2 separate regions of the Homo sapiens genome follow, and region 1 is linked to region 2. The links come from fine-mapping of genetic effects on gene expression. A gene starts in region 2. The other region holds a variant in brackets. All regions are shown on one strand. Distances are between the middles of the regions. Region 1 has its middle 49 kb from the start of LINC02191. Region 2 holds the start of ZKSCAN2 (zinc finger with KRAB and SCAN domains 2).

The links. PIP is the estimated chance that this variant, and not a neighbour inherited with it, causes the effect.
Region 1: its variant is fine-mapped to the expression of ZKSCAN2 in whole blood (INTERVAL, PIP above 0.99).

What each region holds. Positions count from the first base shown.
Region 1 is chr16:25,379,753-25,389,992 of GRCh38, reverse strand. No RefSeq gene overlaps it. Among named protein-coding and RNA genes, the nearest start is that of LINC02191, 49 kb to the left of the region's middle. The variant G/A (reference allele first, on the strand shown) is at 5,038.
Region 2 is chr16:25,253,023-25,263,262 of GRCh38, reverse strand. It overlaps ZKSCAN2 (zinc finger with KRAB and SCAN domains 2), which reads left to right and starts at 5,418. Exons shown (of 7, transcript NM_001012981.5): 1 at 5,418-6,534; 2 at 7,871-8,057; 3 at 10,226-10,240. The coding sequence starts at 6,136. It overlaps ZKSCAN2-DT (ZKSCAN2 divergent transcript), which reads right to left and starts at 5,686. Exons shown (of 1, transcript NR_170220.1): 1 at 2,197-5,686. RefSeq lists enhancers at 4,557-4,636, 4,757-5,076, 5,492-6,052 and silencers at 5,287-5,486, 5,567-5,806.

The DNA of each region.
Region 1 (10,240 bases), 130 kb before region 2:
GGTTCTGTGATGACTGATGGAGAAAATTAGAGTTTAAGGCTTTGCCAGTGTTTGTACTGTCCAAGGCAAAGAAATATTTATGGTAGATGTAGTGGTTTTGTCCACTGAAAACGTTTGGTTTAAAATGGAACAGGAGAGATGAAGAGCAGCATCACTAATGAGCAGCAGGAGATGACCTTAAAGCAGAAACCTTCACTGGCCCTGCGCTCACCTGTAAGCTCCAGAAACATGGCAAAGAAGAGGAGGACTCTGGCCTCTTGGACATCAGAGGAGGAAATGGCAGCAGAAACTGCAGCTCTGTGGGTCTACTTTCAGTGACACAGGTCCTGAATTCCAGCAGAAGGGCTAATGTCAGTCAGTTTGAAGAGCCCCACAAAGGAACTGAATCAGCATGAAAATGCAGTTTCTTCATCTCCTCATCCTGCGACTTCACCCTGCATTCTTCAACCAATGATCCACCTGCCAACCTCAGCCTACTCCAAACTCCTTAAAATCCCAGGTCCCACACTCCTCAGAGAGGTGGATTTGAGATTTCCTCCTGTCTCCTCATTCAACATCCTTATGACTAAACTTCTTTCTCTGCTGCAAAAATTAATAAACAACCCAGTACTTTGGGAGGCCAAGGCAGGTGGATCATCTGAGGTCAGGAGTTCGAGACAAGCCTGACCAATATGGGGAAACCCCGTCTCTACTAAAAATAGAAAAATTAGCTGGGCGTGGTGGCGGGCACCTGTAGTCCCAGCTACTTGGGAGGCTGAGGCAGGAGAATTGCTTGAACCTGGGAGGCAGAGGTTGCAGTGAGCCGAGATCACACCATTGCACTCCAGCCTGGGTGACAGAGCGAGAATCCATCTCAAAAAAAAAATAAATAAATAAATAAGTAAGTAAGTAAAATAGAACAGAATAAAACATCTCCCATACCCTTCCAAAGTGATTGAGAAATATTTTTCTAAGGAGAAGGAAAAAGAACTAGTATTTTTAGATATTATGCAGTGTAGCTGGCATTACGCTAAGTACTTGTATAATCCCTACAAACTTATAAAGTATAGACTTATAGTGGACACTGGGAAATGCTGTCAAGATCCCCTCTTCAAAACCAATGCACTCTAACTGCTGGGAATAGAGGCTGTTAGAAGCCCACAGCTGTACCTCTCACTAAAAACTGCCCTCAGTTATATGGAATGACATCATCCAAGGTCATACACCCTCGGCATGGTATATGGCCACAGATTGATTAATGTAAAGGTTCAAAGGCTCAGCCCTTCTCTCCCAATTTGAGACAACTTGAAGGGTTATCCCAACTCTGAAGTCCCTATCCAAGTTCCAGAGATCTCAGTTACAGCCACATTGCAGGTCAGTTTATCCCTTCTACAATTCTCACTTTCTTACAAGTATGTCTCCCCAGTAAGACTCTGCTTGCAAGTCTCAGTTTATTTCTAAAAATCCACTTTAAAGTTGTACTATTATCTCTATTATTCAGATGATAAACGCTTCAGAGAATTTTACCAAAGGTCTGCAGTCACACAGCTGATGGTAATTCCAAAGTTACATGGTTCCCAAATTGAGTCTCCTCCAATCATCCATTCCACATCTTTTCCCATTTTCCAGGTGCCTTAATTACTGGAAGGGTGTCCTAAGGATTAGACCTGAGACTTCTTGTCACTGCAGTGGTTTATCTTCCCTCCTTGTAATAGTGCAAATTTGGTTTGTAAATTAGACTCAGTGTGTCTAGACAATGTGAGTCTGTCCCTAAAGAGATCCCATTTCTAAGGGAATGGATAAAATAGTTTCAGACACTTTGAGTCAGTCTTGCCTGAGAATCTGCCTGTCATCACTGTAGCTACCCTGGTCTTTTATATCATCTGCTTGGTCCACAATGATAAATGTTTTATAGCTTTCCAACAGGACCAAAGCAGACTTCTGACTATGTTCTCCATAGCAATAAGCTCTCTCTGGGTACTTCAGGTAGACTAACTTGGAGGAGCATATTTAAAGAACAGGGGCCAGGCATGGTGGCTTAGACCTGCAATCTTAGCACTTTAGGAGGCTGAGATGGGAGGATCGCTTGAGCCCAAGAGTTCAAGACCAGCCTGGGCAACACAGCGAAACCCTGTCTCTACAAAAATCAAAAAATTAGCTGGGTATGGTGGCACATGCCTGTAGTCCCAGCTACTCAGGAGGCTGAGATGGGAGGATTGCTTGAGCCCGGGAGGTGGAAGGTGTAGTGAGCCATGATCATGCCACCACACTCACAGAGTGGGACGCTGTCTCAAAAAAATTTTTTTTTAGGAAGAAGAGGGTGAGATTATTTAGAGAAATGTGCAGCTCCAAATTCTGTGAGTCCAGCCCATCAAGGCTGTGGGCAAGGGGGATCAGGATGAGTGGCACCTGGGGAGCCCTAGACATGGAGAGTTGTATCTCCGGGCTTTGAATTTCAAATGCAGCAACCAGCAAAGTGATTTATTAGACTGACCTCATGGATCTATATCAGATACATCTCAACTTCACATAAGGATCAACAATCCCAGAAATTGCCTTAATATTGGAAAAAATATATATATATATATATCCTTTTTATGGCTGCCTTTGAGAACCTCATACAACGAATGACTCTGAAAAATAGTAATTTTTCTGTATAGAAGATGAAAAGAGATTCTTTGATTTGTTTATCTCCATTTTAAAATTGTTTGATTCTTTTCATTTATTTTTCTTTTTAAATTACAAAAACAATAATATTGATGATAAATTTTTGGACAATATGGAAGAGCATAAAATAATAAGTAAATTCCCATTTAATCCTCTCCCAAATCCACCCTTCTGAGATGTTATGGTCTGGGGTATGTTCTTTCAGACTTTTCTCAATGTCTTGTCAAATTTACATATGTACATACATACAAACTTGGAAAAATATACTTACACACACACAAACACACATATATACAAACACATATAGTTGTAACATAAATGTTATTATGTTTTATGTTCATTGTCTTCTGTTATTCAACACAATCCAATGGATTATTGTATTATGCATCTAGTCAATGCAACTCATTGCCACTTAATTATCAGCAACTACAGTGAGAATACTGATCATAAAGCGTATTTTGAGCAGACAGTGTTTCAAGGGCTTTTCATCTATTAACACATTTACTCTTCATGCACTGTTTACAGATGAGGAAACTGAGAACCCCAGACATAGCATTAAACTTGCCCAAGGGCACACAGTCAGTAAGTGACTTAGCTAGGATTTGGGCTCAGGTAGTTTGACTTAAGAACCCTGTTCTAGATGCTGGAGAGGATGTGGAGAAATAGGAACACTTTTACACTGTTGGTGGGAGTGTAAATTCGTTCAACCATTGTAGAAGACAGTGTGGCGATTTCTCAAGGATCTAGAATCAAAAATATCATTTGACCCAGCAATCCCATTACTGGGTATATACCCAAAGGATTGTAAATCATTCTACTATAAAGATATGCACACATATGTTTATTGCAGCACTTTTCACAATAGCAAAGACTTGGAACCAACCCAAATGTGCATCAATGATAGACTGAATAAAGAAAATGTGACACATATACACCATGGAATACTATGCAGCCATAAAAAAGGATGAGTTCATGTCCTTTGCAGGGACATGGATGAAGCTGGAAACCATCATTCTCAGCAAACTAATACAGGAACAGAAAACCAAACACCTCATGTTCTCACTCATAAGTGGGAGTTGAACAATGAGAACACATGGACACAGGGAGGGGAACATCACACACCGGGGCCTGTTGGCGGGTGGGGGGCTAGGGGAGGGATAGCATTTGGAGAAATATCTAATGTAGATGACGGGTTAATGCGTGCAGCAAACCACCATGGCACTTGCATACCTATGTAACAAACCTGCACGCTCTGCACATGTATGCCAGAACTTAAAGTATAATTTAAAAAAAACCTGTTCTGATAGTATGGGGAACATCTCTCTAATCAATCACAACAGGAAATTGGGAGAAGATGCCCTGGACACTCCCAAGGTAACAGAGTGACCCATTGCAAGGTCTATCACCAAATCCTGAGGTTCCCAAATGTCTATTTCAGAGGCTCTGAAGACTGAGTGCATACAGGTTTCCCCTATGTAGAGTTGCCACCGCCACATACTCCAGGAGGAATGGTCCATGAAGCTTAATCTCAGAAATAAAATCTGAACCTAAAACATAACTACCATTCAACCCAGCAATCTCATTGCCAGGTATGTATCCAAAAGAAAATAAATTGTTCTACCAAAAAGACACATGCACTCATATGGTCATTTCCGCACTATTCACAATACTAGAGACATGGAATCAACCTAGGTGCCCATCAACAGTGGATTCAATAAGGAAAATATGCACATATACTCCATGGAATACAATACAGCCATAAAAAAGAATGAAATCACATCCTTTGCAGCAACGTGGATGCAGCTGGGGGCCATTATCCTGTGCAAATTAACACAGGAACAGAAAACCAAATCCCACTTAGAAGAAGGAGGTAAACATTGAGTACTTACAGACATAAAGATGACAACAATAGACGCTGGGGACTACTAAAGTGGGGAAGCAGTGAGGGGCAAGCATTGAAAAACTAACTGGTGGGTACTATGCTCACTACCTGGGTAACGGGATCATTCATACTCCCAACCTCAGCATCATGCAATATACCTAGGTAACAAACCTGCACATGTACCCACTGAATCTAAAATAAAAGTTGAAAACATTTTTTTAAAAAAGAAATAAAATCTTAGTAAAGGATCCCAGTGTCTTCATTTATTGTAGCCTCTAAAGACCAGCACACAACACTGGATTTTATTTTGGATTTTATTATGATTCAGAGGAAACACGAAGCATAAGTTTTAAAATTAAGAACACAGTAGGCATTTAACAAAAGGTAGATGGGTGATGGATGATGGATGCACAGGTGAACAAACGAACATGCAGAAAAAACAAAGGAGAGCCATGAAAGCTGCCTTGAGCCCTAGAAATGAACCTGTATTAATCTGTTCTCACACTGCT[G/A]TAAAGAACTACCTGAGACTGGGTAATTTATAAAGAAAAGAGGTTTAATTGACTCACAGTTCCACGGGCTTAACATGAAGCATGGCTGAGAGGCCTCAGGAAACTTACAGTCATGGCGGAAGGTGAAGGGGAAACAAGCACCTTCTTCATGTGGTGGCAGGAGAGAAAGTGTGAGGGAGGAAGTGTCATACACTTTCAAACCATCAGATCTTGTGAGAACTCACTCACTATCACGAGAACAGCATGGGAAATTCCACCCCCACAATCCAATCACCTCCCACTAGGTCCCTCCCCCAACATTGGGAATTACAATTCAACATGAGATTTGGGTGGGAACATATTGCCAAACCATACCAGAGCCCAAGTCTTAACCCTTGAATCACAGCTTGTCCCTGGCTCCAGGTGCAGAATGTTCCTGTAGTTCCAGCAACACTCATATTGAGACGGAGTCTCATTCTTGTCGCCCAGGCTAGAGTGCAGTGGCACAATCTTGACTCACTGCAACCTCCACCTCTGGGTTCAAGCAATTCTCCCGCCTCTGCCTCCCAAGTAGCTGGGATTACAGGCACCTGAAACCAGGCTCAGCTAATTTTTGTATTTTTAGTAGAGACGGGGTTTCATCATGTTGGCCAGGCTGGTCTTGAACTCCTGACCTCAGTTGATCCACCCGCCTCAGTCTCCCGAAGTGCTGGGATTACAGGCGTGAGCCACCATGCCTGGCCAACACTCGTATTTTTCTGATTTGGAGATTTAATGGGTACTTCACAGACCCCACTGAACCCTGAAGGTCACTTCTTTGCCACTTTTCCACCAACCAGTTCTCTCTTGGACTTTTCTTGCCTTCTTTCTTACTAGCCTTCCTTCTGATTTTCTCTGACTTCTTTAATTTTCCTTTATTAATTTTATCTGGCTCTCTTGCTCTAATTAAAAATGTAGTATTTGCTCAATATAACCAGTGAAATAATGCAAAGATATACAAAGAAACACTTCTTAATGCTTCCCCTTCCATTCCAGCCTTCCTGAGATAACCAATATTAACAGCCTAGAGAGTGTTTTTCCACTTCTTTCTTATACTCATGGAAACATACACAAACACATAATCATACATAGAAAGGATTTTTGGTTGGTTTCACAAAAATAAGATCATGGTATCCACCTTGTTTTACAACTTTTTTCATCCTAAATTATCAGGAGACCCCGCCCAGTCAATCGGTATAGATATAACTCATTTTTGATGTCGTTAAACATGTTTTATACTTATTACACAGCAAAATCAACCTTTTGGGAGTGTATAGTTCTATGAATTTCAGCAATGTCTGCATTCACGTGATCACCACCACAATAAACATGTACATTTCCACCACCCCAAAAAGTTCCTTCACATCCAGTAGTCACACCCTCCTTCCATCCCTAAGCCCCAACAACCACTAATCTGTTCTTCAACATTATAGTTTTGTCATTTCAAGAATGTCACATCGGCCAGGCATGGTGGCTCACGCCTGTAATCCCAGCACTTTGGGAGACTGAGACTTTGGGAGACAACAAATAAATCAGCCAAGTATAGTGGCACATGCCTGTGATCCCAGCTACTTGGGAGGCTGAGGCAAGAGGATGGCTTGAGCTCTGGAGTTTGAGGCTGCAGTGAGCTATGATTATACCACTGCACTCTAGCCTGGGCAGCAGAGTGAAGCCCTTTCTCTAAAAAATTAAAAAAAAATAATTTTGTGGCTGAGAGAAAGGCTAGCATTTCTGTTGGCGATAATAGTATCTGTCTCTCAGGGGTCTTGTTAGGATCTTCAAAGACAGATCTGTCAGCAGCACTTTGGGAGACTGAGGCAGGTGGATCACCTGAGGTCAGGAGTTCAAGACCAGCCTGACCAATATGGTGAAACCCCATCTCTACTAAAAATACAAAAATTAGCTGGGTGTGGTGGCATGTGCCTGTAATTCCAGCTACTTGGGAGGCTGAGGCAGGAGAATCACTTGAACCCGGGAGACGGAGATTGCAATGAGTCGAGATCATGTCACTGCACTCTAGCCTGGGTGACAGAGTGAGACTCCATCTTAAAAAAAAAAAAGAACGTCACATCAATGAAATCACACAATATTTGAAATTGGCTTCTGTTGTCCCACATAATGCATTTGAGATTCCTCTAAGTCGTGTGTACCAATAGTTCACTCAGTTTTGCTGAGTAGTATTTCATAAAAGGGATGTACCACAGTTTATTTTTACTTACTGTTTTTAATGACTGCACTACATTCCATATGTGGACCCACGTATTCAATCAGTCTTGTACTGATGAACATTCAGGCTAGTTTCCAATTTTTCCACAAAGAAACAACGTTGAACATTATATTCTAACAGAGAGATGCTCTAATTTATATAACCCGATTTTTTTTTTTTTTTTGACATGGAGTTCCACTCTTGTTGCCCAGGCTGGAGTGCAATGGCGTGATCTCACCGCAACATTTGCCTCCCAGGTTCAAGCGATTCTCCTGCCTCAGCCTCCCAAGTAGCTGGGATTACAGTCATGTGCCACCATGCCCGGCTAATTTTGTATTTTTAGTAAAGATGGGGTTTCTCCATGTTGGTCAGGCTGGTGTCGAACTCCCAACTTCAGGTGATCCTCCCACCTCAGCCTTCCAAAGTGCTGAGATTACAGGCATGAGCCGTCGTGCCCGGCCATAGTCTGATTATTGAATGTAAGATTGCTTGGTAACACATTTGTGTAGCTTAACACTTAAGTTTTTCCTAGTATTCCTTGTTGTCACATTTCATATTCCCACCAGCAACGTATGAAAGTATTTTCTCACATTTTTGTCACCTTGAAATAGCTTCTCTTTTTAGTTTTTTCCCAGTCTAATGGATTAAAAAAAAAGGGATCTTATTTTAGCTTTAATTTGCATGTCCTTGAGCATCCTTAGAGATAACCTTTGGCCATTTGGATATCCTCTTCAGTGAGGGGTCCACTCATTGCCTTTGCCCATTTTCCTGTCAGGTGGTTTATTTGTTTCTTCTCATGGGAGTTCTTTGCATATTGGATATATTAATAGTTGTTCTGGGCTGGCACAATGGCTTACACTTGTAATCCCAGAACTTTGGGAGGCCAAGGCAGGAGGATCACTTGAGCCCAGGAATTTCAGATCAGCCTGGGCAACATATTGACATCCCATCTCTACAAAAAATAAATTAGCCAAATATAGTGGCACATGCCTGTGATCCCAGCTACTTGGGAGGCTGAGGCAAGAGGATGGCTTGAGCTCTGGAGTTTGAGGCTGCAGTGAGCTATGATTATACCACTGCATTCTAGCCTGGGCAGCAGAGTGAAGCCCTTTCTCTAAAAAATTTAAAAAAAATAATTTTGTGGCTGAGAGAAACGCTAGCATTTCTGTTGGCAATAATAGTATCTGTCTCTCAGGGGTCTTGTTAGGATCTTCAAAGAGATATCTGTCATGATGCCTGTAGGCGATTTGGGTTTTTTTTTTCCTAACCTATTAGAAATTGAGATGATAGTAGGTGATTTTGGAATGTACTTTTCCCTTTTCTCTAATGCAAACACTGAGCCAGGCCCAAGAAAGGGCAGCTGATCTATGCTTTTCACAGGTTGAGGAAGCATGATTTGGAATCCAAAAAGCACAGAGACTTATAGGCCGATCTTCACACAGGTAAGTCCCTTAGGCATAACAATAGCTAATATTTACGTAGCACTTTGTATGCTGGGCACAGTGGCACATGCCTGTAATCCCAGCATTTTGGGTGGCTGAGGCAGGTGGATCACCTGAGGTCAGGAGTTCGAGACTAACCTGACCAACATGGTGAAACCCCGTCTCTACTAAATACAAAAAATTAGCCAGGTGTAGTGGCACATGCCTGTAATACCAGTTACTTGGGAGGCTGAAGCAGGAGAATCACTTGAACCTGGGAGGCAGAGGTTGCAGTGAACCGAGATCATGCTACTGCACTCCAGCCTGGAAGACAGAGTGAGACTCTGTCTCAAAAAAAAAAAAAAAAATACATAGCACTTCGTATATGCCAAGTACTGTGTCAACTCCTTTAATCTTCACATCAACACTACAATATAGGTACTATTATTATTCATATTTAGAGTTTGAAAAAAAAAACTGAGTCACAGAGACCAAGTAACTCACTGAGGATCATATAATCAGTAAACTGCAGTGCTGGGATTTGAACACAGACAGTCTGGCTCCAGCTTCCATGTTCTTAGCTACTATGCCATGCTATGCTATACTGTATTATACTACACCATATTACATTATATGATTATCCAAGAGCAATATCAGAGACTCATGATTAGCTCAGGGTGATAAGTAGGGTACCCTGGGGAAAGTGAGTTATCTAAAGCAAAAGCAAAGGATGAGGGCTGGGTCTTGAGCTCTTCAGCAAATGTGGGCAAAGATTATTCCATTGTCTGATTTCTTGCTGAGAGTTCAAAGCATGCCATTTTCATTTCCAGCCACATGAAAAGCCTTTTGTTTTGTTTTGTTTTGTTTTGTTTTTTCTGACAGAGTAGACCCAGGGCTATGGTTTGGGCATGTCCCCCAAAATGTATGTGTTGCAAACTTGATCCTCAATGTAGCGGTGTTGAGAGGTGGAACCTATGGGCATTGATTGGGTCATAAGAGCTCTGCCCTCATGAATAAATTACTCCATTTATGAATTGATGGATGAATGGGTTATTGAGAAAGTGGGTTAGTTGTCACAAGAGTGGGTATGTTATCAAAGCCAGTTTGTCCATCTCTGCCGAGACCAGCTCAGTCGGGGAGACCCTAACCCAGCAGTGCTAGAGGTATTAAAGACACACACACACAGAAATATAGCACGTAGAGTGGGAAATCAGGGGACTCACAGCCTTCAAAGCAGAGAGCCCCAAACAGAGATTTACCCACATATTTACTGACAGCAAGCCAGTGATAAGCATTGTTTCTATAGATTACAGGTTCACTAAAAGTATTCCTAACGGGAAATAAAGGGATGGGCTCTGGCTAGTTATCTGCAGCATGAACACGTCCTTAAGGCACAGATCACTCATGCTATTGTTTGTGGCTTAGGAATGTCTTTAAGTGGTTTTCTGCCCTGGGGTGGGCCAGGTGTTCCTTGCCCTCATTCTGGTAAACCCACAACCTTCAGCATGGGCATCATGGCCATCATGAACATGTCACAGTGCTGCAGAGATTTTGTTTA
Region 2 (10,240 bases):
AGGGATGATCACTTTCGCAAGATGTCTCAGGACAGCAATTTCTAAGAAATGAAACCTTTTCATGCACTTTTCCCTGACAAGCAGCTGGGAGCAGGGGCTGGGCCAAGAGTAAGTGAAAGTATACCTAAGTGTGGTCATGGGCCCCAGGTCAATACATAAAGTCTAGGTGAGAACCAAAGCAACAACAAAATATTAAATATAAAATGGGCTGGATAACTAGAGGGAGCCAAGGTATAATGCCAGGCACATTAGGATGGAGAAAATGTAAAATACAAAGAGGGCGGAAAGGTACAAAAGGAAGGCACAACTAAATATTTCCCTGGGGAGCCTTTCCGGGGACTTTTCCTGCAGCAGCCGCATCAGGACAAATGAGGTGCCAGCTGAAAAACTGGTGGATAAAATAATGACCATAAAACTGCTTCAAAAACTGTGAAACCATGCGCACAAGGGAGGAATCGCTCAGAGGCTACATACCACAGATGAGGTTGAGTGCTTACTATGCGTAAGGCACTTTATAAGCTCCCAGTACACAGTGGTTAAAAACATAAAATGTCCTGCTTCACTGAGTTAACATTATAGTGAGGCAAACTCATGTAACTGCCAATTATTTAGAAGTGTGATAACTTCACCTAAAAATACTGCCAGCTTCTTTTTAGAAATCAGAAGATCTAGGCCGGGCGCAGGGGCTCACGCCTGTAATTCCAGCACTTCGGGAGGTCAAGGCAGGCTGATCACTTGAGCTCAGGAGTTTCAGACCAGCCTGGGCAACATAGTGAGACCCTGTCTCTGAAAAAAATATATAAAAATTAGCCGGGTAGTGGCATGTGTCTGCAGTCCCAGCTGCAGTGGGCTATGATTGCACCACTGCACTCTAGCCTGTTTTTTGAGAAGGAGTCTCGCTCTGTTGCCCAGGCTAGAGTGCAGTAGCGCGATCTCGGCTCACTGCAAGCTCCACCTCCCGGGTTCACGCTATTCTCCTGCCTCAGCCTCCAGAGTAGCTGGGACTACAGGCGCCCACCACCACGCCCAGCTAATTTTTTGTATTTTTAGTAGAGACAGGGTTTCGCCATGTTAGCCAGGATGGTCTCGATCTCCTGACCTTGTGATCTGCCCACCTCGGCCTCCCTAAGTGCTGCAATTACAGGCGTGAGCCACCGCGCCAAGCCCTCAAAATAATATCATCAGAAGATCCAGCAGGGCTTGGTCTGTAATCCTGCATGGCAACAAGAGACTGGAACTAGTGGCTGCTTCCTTTAGACAGGAAATGTGGCCTTCAGCTCACCACACTCCCCACCATCCCCTATTGTCTTACACTCTGCCCTACTTCACTCTATGCTATCTGCCTGAGCTCTGCAGGCTTTCAAGTTTGTGATTCCTGCTCCCTCATGTCCCCAAGCTGTTTGTGATACTTGCCTCTCCTAAAACCACCAAATAGCCCAAGGAGAATATAAAGAACCCTACTCTTATTTGAATCTGAATCCTGGGTTGCCATTTAATCTGATGTAACCTTGGGCAGTGACATCACCTTGCTCAAGTCTCAATGCCCTAAACTCTAAAATGAAGGTAATCATATCTGGTTTATAGGATTTTTGTGAGGACTAGGCTTTGCCTAATTAGCTCTTCTCCTTTGGATCTCACCCCTAGCACTGCTTCTTCAAAAAAACCTTTCCAGACCTCCCAAATAGATCAAATCCCTCTGACAGACATAGGTTCTCAGCACCATGTCTCTTCTTGGTGGCACCCATCTCCCTTAGAATTGTACTTGAGTTTGTGGATTACTTATTTAATTCCTGCCTCTCCCACCAGACTGAAAACTCAATAATGGGAGGGGAATCCTGCTTTTGCTCCCTACCTACCACCATATCTGGCATTAAATAGGTCCTCAATAAGTATTATTTAAAAAGAAAAATGAGCTGTGTAAGGATGCTGATACAACCCCTGGCATATACGAGGTACCCCACTGATTCTCTCTGCCCCACCCTCAGGTAATGCCTGTTATGTACATGGTACCCTAAGCTTCTGGGGCTAAAATTGGCTCAATTTTTAACATTTGGGAAACAAGTGATTAGGTTGTGTTTTCTAATAAGCTATCTACCTCCCAGAATAAGGATTTTTGTTTTGCCCACTGACATACATGTAGCCGAACTGGTGTCCAGGCCACTCGTCGCCTGAAAGCCAAAAACTCAAAAGACAAGCTTTGGTGAAAGCAAAGTTAGCTTTATTCGAGAAACCAGCAACCTGCAAAAGGCAGTGCACTAGCATTCAAAGACCACCTTTCTCAGTTGTGCCTCTAGATCCAGGGATTTTAAGGAAAATTAGGAGAAATAATGATCAAAACATTCTTGTGGGCCAGGAGCGGTGGCTCATACTTGTAACCCCAGCAATTTGGGAGGCCGAGGCAGGTGGATCACTTGAGGTCAGGAGTTCGAGACCATCCTGGCCAACATAGTCAAACATCATCTCTACTAAAAATACAAAAATTAGCCAGGTGCGGTGGCACACGCCTGTAGTCCCAGCTACTCAGGAGGCAGAGGCTACAGCGAACCAACATCACTGCACTCCAGCCTGGGAGACAGACCAAGACTGTCTCAAAAAACAAAACAAAGAAACATTCTTGTGAATCATGCGCAGTCTCAGATGGGCAGTTAGTCATTACTTTCTTGGTCAATGCCTTGTGACTAGACTGTGCAGGGGCCATCAGCCTGTTCCCAAAGCTGCGGGTCTGTGTGTTTTATCTGTTGAAGAAGGTCCTGTTTTTTTCTGTGGCTGTTTTTAGTGAATAGTTTACAAACTCAGGCAAAACAATAATTATACTCAAGCAAGCAAGCTTTTCTCTAACATAGAGTCAGTACTGCTGTTACCCGTTGCAGGGCCTAGGGGACTTAGCTGGACGCCTACCTGGCTTTTGTTACCCAATGCAATGCCTCCATGACATAGCTAAATTCCTACTCAGATTTAACTCTGCTTATTTTTAGAAAACAGGTTGTCTGTGGTCATAGGTTCCTTCTTAGCTTACTCGACCTCTGAAGAACCTCTAGCTTCATTCTAATCCAACTTCAGTACTAAATGACATTCCCACTGGTTGCCATGACAGTTGACAATCACCGTGATGACCCGAAGAGACCAAAAAAAGGACAAAAAAAGGGGCAGCTCCTTGATTCCAGGAAAATCTACCTCCCTTCCCAAGAAAAAACATGAATATTCCTCCTCTTGTTCTTAATTTTTATTTTTTTTAGAGACAGGGTCTTACCATGTTGCCCAAGCTGGTCTCCAATTCCTGGGCTCAAGCTTTCCTTCTGCCTCCTCGCCTTGCTCTTAATGCCCAGCCCCTTCATTAAGGACACCTGACGACTAAGCTCTGATTCTTTTGTTTTTTTTTTCTGTTTTGTTTTGTTTTTGACACAGAGTCTCACTTTGTCAACCAAGCTGGAGTGCAGTGGCACAATCTCAGCTCATTGCAACCTCCGCCTCCCGGGTTCAAGTTGAGTCTCATGCCTCAGCCTCCCAATCAGCTAGAATCACAGGCGTGTGCCACCATGCCCAGCTAATTTTTGTATTTTTAGTAGAGACGGGGTTTCGCCATGTTGGCCAGGCTGGTCTTAAACTTCTGACCTCAAGCGATCCACCTGCCTTGGCCTCCCAAAATGCTGGGATTATAGGCGTGAGCCACCACGACCAGCCTAAACTCTTGATTTTTTTAATCCTGCCCAAATTCCTATCTAAGGGATCTGGGGAGTCATGACCTACAAACCATAAATTCTCATCAGATGGGTTTTATTTAATCCTATATATGATGACTTACTTTCCATTCTGACTCTGGCATAACATTACGTGACAAAAAGAAAGTCAAAATATTTTACCCCAAAACATGTTTCCTTGCCCTATTTTGCAATTTCTTCCATAAAGGACAGCATTTTCCCCCAAAAGCTATCCTTTGTGGGGTAAAATGTGCATCTGTAAAGAACATCTATTAACATAGCTAGATGTTTTTCTTCCAGGCCCTCCCAATCCTAAACGGATTAACTAAAAGTCTAACACCTTTTGAAGATCTGAATAGGAAACATTTGTCATCTATTATCTCTAAGAGCAGCCACCATAAGACTTCAAAAGAACCTTAGTCTCCACTATCTTTTATCTTAACCTGAACACTTCCTTTCTATCAATCCCAGGTCTTCAGACAAACTCAACCAATTGTCAACTAGAAAATATTTAAATTTACCTATAGCCTGGAAGCCCCCACCCCCACCCCTTTGCGTTGTCCCGCCTTCCTGGACCAAACCAATGTATTTAATGTATTTGACTGATGTCTCATGCCAACCTAAAACATAAAACCAAGCTGCACCCCGACCACCTTGGGCACATGTTCTCAGGGCCTCGAGAGGGCTGTATCACAGGCTGTGGTTACTCGTATTTGGCTCACAATAAATCTCTTCAAATATTTTGCACGGTTTTACTTTTCGTCAACACTCCCTATTACCTGTAACTTCTCAGTTTCCAAGAGCTGAGAGCTTGATTTGCGAGCTACCCTCCCACTTCTCCAATTCCATGGCCACTGAATGAAGGCTGCACTGCCTGATACTCACACTTGGTCTCATGCGCTGGCTCTGCAACAACGGACAGACAAGAGTTCCTTTGGGGGAAACCAGCTTCCCAGGTGACACTGTTGCCTCTGCTACATGCGCAAAGCGCAGCCTGGCACATAGTAGGTGCTCAAGAGAGGGAAAGCCGGGTCTATGAATTCAGGGACAGGGGCAGCACCAGAAGAGAGCAAGCTGGGGCCTGGCTGGCTGAACCCTGGCCCCGAGACCCCTGTGACCCCCCTTCTCATCAGGATGCACCACATGAACCTCCCCAACGCGAGGGCCAACAAGTGGCCCCAGATGAGACCGCGCCGGGAAGGGCCTGGGGCCACGCACAGATACTTCCGCCAGAAAAACACCACGCCGCGCCGTGCACCTCCGCCAGAGGAAGAAGGTCCCGCAGGGTCGGGGTAACCGCTCCATCCCCGACCGCAACCCTGGACCAGGTACAAGGAACAGATCCCTCCACCGGAACGCCGTGTCCCTCCGCCAGACACAGGAGTCCCCGCTCCCGTGCTCTCCTTCCCCGGCAGCCAGGCCCCGGTGCCGACTCCTCCGCCTCAGGGAGGCCCCGCCGCCGCCTAGATTCTCCGCCTGAAGCGGGACTCGCGACGGCAGGTTCCCTAGAATCCCTCTGTGTCCCTCCGCCCCGGGGAGGACCCTCCGCGCCCCTCTACAATCTTAAAGTCCCTCAGCGACGAGTCACCGCGCCGCGCGCTCTCGCGAGAGTCCACCGCACGGCCCCCCCCCCCTCCCCCAGCCCCTCGCCCGCCAGGACGCCTCGCGCGGGCCCCGCGGCGCTCGGTGGCAGGCGGCGCATGCGTGACTGCGGTTCCCAGCGCCCCCCGCGCTCTCCGCGGGCCGAGTGGACGAGGCCGAACGCGAGCAGCCTGCCGCTGCCCCCTGCGAGCCCTGGCTTCGCCCCGCAGCTCTTCTCCCTTCCGGGCGGAACAGTTTTTGCGGCCTTTCCTCGGCGGCAGCGGTTTCCTCAGGACGGTCGGGGCCGTCGTGGGCCCGAAAGAGCCCGGCGCCGCTCTCGGAATCCGGCGGCCCCAGCGGCACCCGCGGCGGCCTGGACGTGCTGCGGTGACCCGAGCCCGGAACCTGGCGCCGGGCGGGGCCTGCACATCCGGCCCCACCCACTCGGGGACTCGCCTCTCCGCGCCCGACCCGGGAGTAGCGGACACACCCCCTCCCGGCCCGGCTGTCCGCCTCCGCCCAGCCTTTCCTCAGCCTGCTTCATTTTTCTCCCAGTCGTCCAGCCTCCCGGTTTCCGACTTTGCACTAAGAGGGATGCACTCTGGAAAACCACATTGCGCGGTCACATCTTGTTTGGAGAAGAGGCCAGGCTTTTGCATCTTAGAGTATACGTTCACCTTTTCAAGGGCCTGGCATAGATTTGATTAATCAGCCTGGAATACCCTGTTCCTGCCGACCTGGCCGTTTTTACCTCCGTACCTTATCACACTCCCAGGAACATTAAGCAGGGAGCGCTTGGAGTCTTCTTTGGGTCCCCACCTTGAGCTAGACGTGAAGTTGACCCCTGGGCTGCAGCATGGCTGTCGCCCTCGACTCTCAGATCGACGCGCCCCTGGAGGTTGAGGGATGCCTAATAATGAAGGTGGAAAAGGACCCTGAGTGGGCATCAGAGCCCATTCTGGAAGGATCGGATAGCTCTGAGACCTTCCGCAAATGCTTCAGGCAATTCTGTTATGAGGATGTGACTGGACCCCATGAAGCTTTCAGTAAACTCTGGGAACTTTGCTGCCGGTGGCTGAAGCCAGAAATGCGTTCCAAGGAGCAAATACTTGAGCTGCTGGTGATTGAGCAGTTTCTCACCATTTTACCCGAGAAGATTCAGGCTTGGGCACAGAAGCAGTGTCCGCAAAGTGGAGAGGAAGCGGTGGCCCTGGTAGTGCATTTGGAGAAAGAGACTGGAAGACTAAGACAGCAGGTGAGAGAGGATTTTCCAAATTTTTGTACTTAGAAAAAAGGGAATGGGAAAGGCATGTGGGCAGGGATGTATTGCAGAAAGACGTGCTCTTCAGAGAAAGATAAATGGTACTAATAAAAGACCCTATAAGGGGGTCTTTTCACTTTAAGTGAATCCACTTAAAAGGGGATCAGAATTTCACATGAAATAGAAAAATAAAAGCTTTGATTGAAATATTATCTTACAATGGAAACCAGACATTATTCACCTAAGCATTTATCGTCATCTTTGGCATAATGTTTGCAACAAAACAATATAAGAGAACAATATGGTTTTGCGTCACAGAGGTTCACTTACGCATTTTGATCAAAAAAGGCTATTCTGTTCCCCCTTTAAAAAAAAAAAAAAAAGACTTCATCCGTTATCCCAGAGCCGTCTCCAAGCGTTTTACTGTTGCACTCAGTGTCTTCTGAAGTGCTCTCATGCCTTCATTTCTGTCACTCTCCTCCAGTCTAACTGCCACATCTTCATTTCTCAGTGGCTTGCATGCTCTTCTAGTTGTTCTTCAACCTCACTTTCATGAACCTCGTGAAATCCTGCAGCATTTGCAAGATTTGCGGTTTCACCTTGCATCAGACTTGCATTGTGTAGAGATCTATCAGCAGGTTGCTGTATTGGTCAGGGATAGACAGATAGATGTGGATATTAATTTTGTAAGTTTTCATTTCACTACTGTATATATTCATGTCCTGGTAACTTCTTTGCGAACGTAACAGATATAGAGTCAAATAATATCTATTCTAGCAACAAGGAGGCTCTTTCACTCCTGACAGATTTCCTTCTCTGTTTAGTATTAAATATTATTCTGGCCAGGCGCGGTGGCTCACATCTGTAATCCCAGCACTTTGGGAGGCCGAGGCATGTTGATCACCTGAGGTCAGGAATTCGAGACCAGCCTGACCAACATAATGAAACCCCATCTCTACTAAAAAAATATAAAATTAGCCGGTTGTGTTGGTGCATGCCTGTAATCCCAGCTACTTGGGAGGCTGAGAGAGGAGAATCGCTTGAACCTGGGAGGTGGAGGTTGCAGTGAGCCAAGATCGTGCCATTGCACTCCAGCCTGGGCAACAAAAGTGAAACTCTGTCTCAGAAAAAAGAACACTGTTCTGTTACCTTACACCCAGACTGCTGGACAGTACTCTCAGCCCAGCGCTCTCAGAGACTCCACTGGGAATGGAGTGGAATTTTCATTCCTTCTCATGTCTCTGTCCTTCTTTGATGTCTTTCCTGGGAGAATTTCGCCCTGATATGGGCCTGTTTTACTCCCTCTTATGGTATTGACTTCATTTCTCAGGTCAGCAGTCCCGTGCACCGGGAGAAGCACTCCCCACTTGGAGCAGCGTGGGAGGTGGCAGACTTCCAGCCAGAGCAGGTGGAGACCCAACCCAGGGCGGTGTCTCGGGAGGAACCTGGAAGCCTCCACTCAGGACACCAGGAACAGCTGAACCGAAAGCGAGAACGTCGGCCCTTACCCAAGAATGGTAAGAGGGAAGACTCGGAGCACGCCTAGTGCAGAGGCTGGGGCAGATTTCCGCAGTACCCCAACGCTGTGAATGTGCAGTGGAGGGCCTCCTTGATACATATTCAGAATAGGAGAAAGGTTTCATTCACTTCAAGAATTAGGAACATGTGCAATATAAGTGAAAAGGTATCATAAAGATGGAAACTGAGTCTGGGCAACATGGGAAAACCCAGTCTCTACAAAATCGCAAAAAAAAAAAAAATATTAGCCAGGTGTGTTGGCGTGCACCTGTGGTCTCAGCTACTCAGGAGGCTGAGTCAGGAGGATTGCTTGAACCCAGGAGGTTGAGGCTGCAGTAAGCCGTGATCACACCACTGTATTCCAGCCTGGGTGACAGAGCGAGACCCTGTCTCAAAAAAAAAAAAAAAAAGATCCAAACTGGGGAAACTTAGATTGCCTGGGCCAGCTATGAGATCCTGTGGTGGTAAACTCTCCATGGCTGGACACAGTGACTCACGTCGTAATCCCAACACTTTGGGAGGCCGAGGCAGGCGGATCTCTTGAAGCCAGGAGTTCAAGACCAGCCTGGGCAAGATAGCGAGACAAACACATTTTCTCTACAAAAAAATAAAATAAGATCTACATTCTACAATCATCATGTGTTTTTCAGTCCTGCCATGTGTATGTGCTCTTGGCTGACTATAAATAAGTCAAAAAGCTGTTTGAAAGGGAACAAGGCATTTGTGTTCAAAGTTTGACTCACAGGCCATCACAGAAGTGGCATACAAGAGAGATAAACAGTTAAGATTTCACAGGGAAGGGACCACTGACATTCATAGCTGCCCTGCACATTAATGACTCAGGTCAAATGCTAGGAAATGAATACCCTGTCCTTCCCAGTCCACAGTGATCTCTCCATCTCCTGAAGTGTGGCTTCATCTCAGTCTTAAAGAGAGGAATGGAAACATCACTAAACCTGCCGTCAGAAGTCTTCTGTTTATATCTTGTCTCTGCCACCTTCTGTCTGTGATCTTGGGCAAATAATATGAAAAGACGCATGAATGCACAGAGGCTAAGAGCTTAGGCTTTAGAGACAGACAGACCTAGATTCAAAACCTAGCTCTGCCATTTTTTTATCTATGTGGCCTTGGTCAGGATACTTAACTTCTCAAGCTTTCCATTCTCTCATCTTTATTTTATTTTATTTTATTTTATTTTTTCTTTGAGGTGGAGTCTTGTTCCAGGTTAGCGTGCAGTGGCACGATCTCAGCTCACAGCAACCTCCGCCTCCCAGGTTCCAGCAATTCTCGTGCCTCAGTCTCTCGAGTAGCTGGGATTACAGGCGTGTGCCATCATGCCTGGCTAATTTTTGTATTTTTAGTAGAGATGGGGTTTCACCATGTTGACCAGGCTGGTCTTGAACTCCTCACGTTAGGTGATCTGCCCGCCTTGGCCTCCCAAAGTGCTGGGATTACAGGCGTGAGCCACCACACCCAGTCCTCTCATCTTTAAGAGGGAAATAGCAAGGCTATTTGTGCAGATTAAATGCGGCAGCATGAAGGAGCCAGTGCATAATAGTGCTCAATAAATGCTAGTTTCCTTTCCCCCAGAATGGCACAATTATTTTTAAACCTCAAGTCTGTCTGATTTACCCAGCCCTTCACTGAGAGGCAAGATTCAGTACTACTATACTGTTTTATGCCTCCCCAAATTTATATTATGATGGAATGCATTGCAAATGTCCATGATTGAGAGAGACAGAGAGAGAGAGAGAGAGAGAGAGAGGAAGGGAGAAAAGGGAAGGGAGGGGGAAAGGAAGGCTGGGGAAGGGAAAGGGGGTAGGGAAGGAGGGAAGGTACCACAGCCATAGTCTCACACTGAGACATGAGCGGGACCTGAGCATTGGCATTGGCAGTGCCCTTTCAATCAGATGTGTGCTCTCCAGTTCCCACAGTCCTTACCTGGTCCCCTTCATCCTGTATTTACTTGCTTACCCCCGGAAAGCATTTGAGGCTGTGATCCCAGCTTTAGGGTACTGTGTTTTTGGGGATTGTTCTGAACTCACAGATAAAATGGTGAATTTATATTTGTTGGTGTTTCAATACATACTCATCTCTTAAAAAGAGAGACAGCATGAATTAAAGGGTCAAAGCCCAGATTACTAATCGTTTCTTTCTATTCTTACAGCTCGGCCTTCTCCCT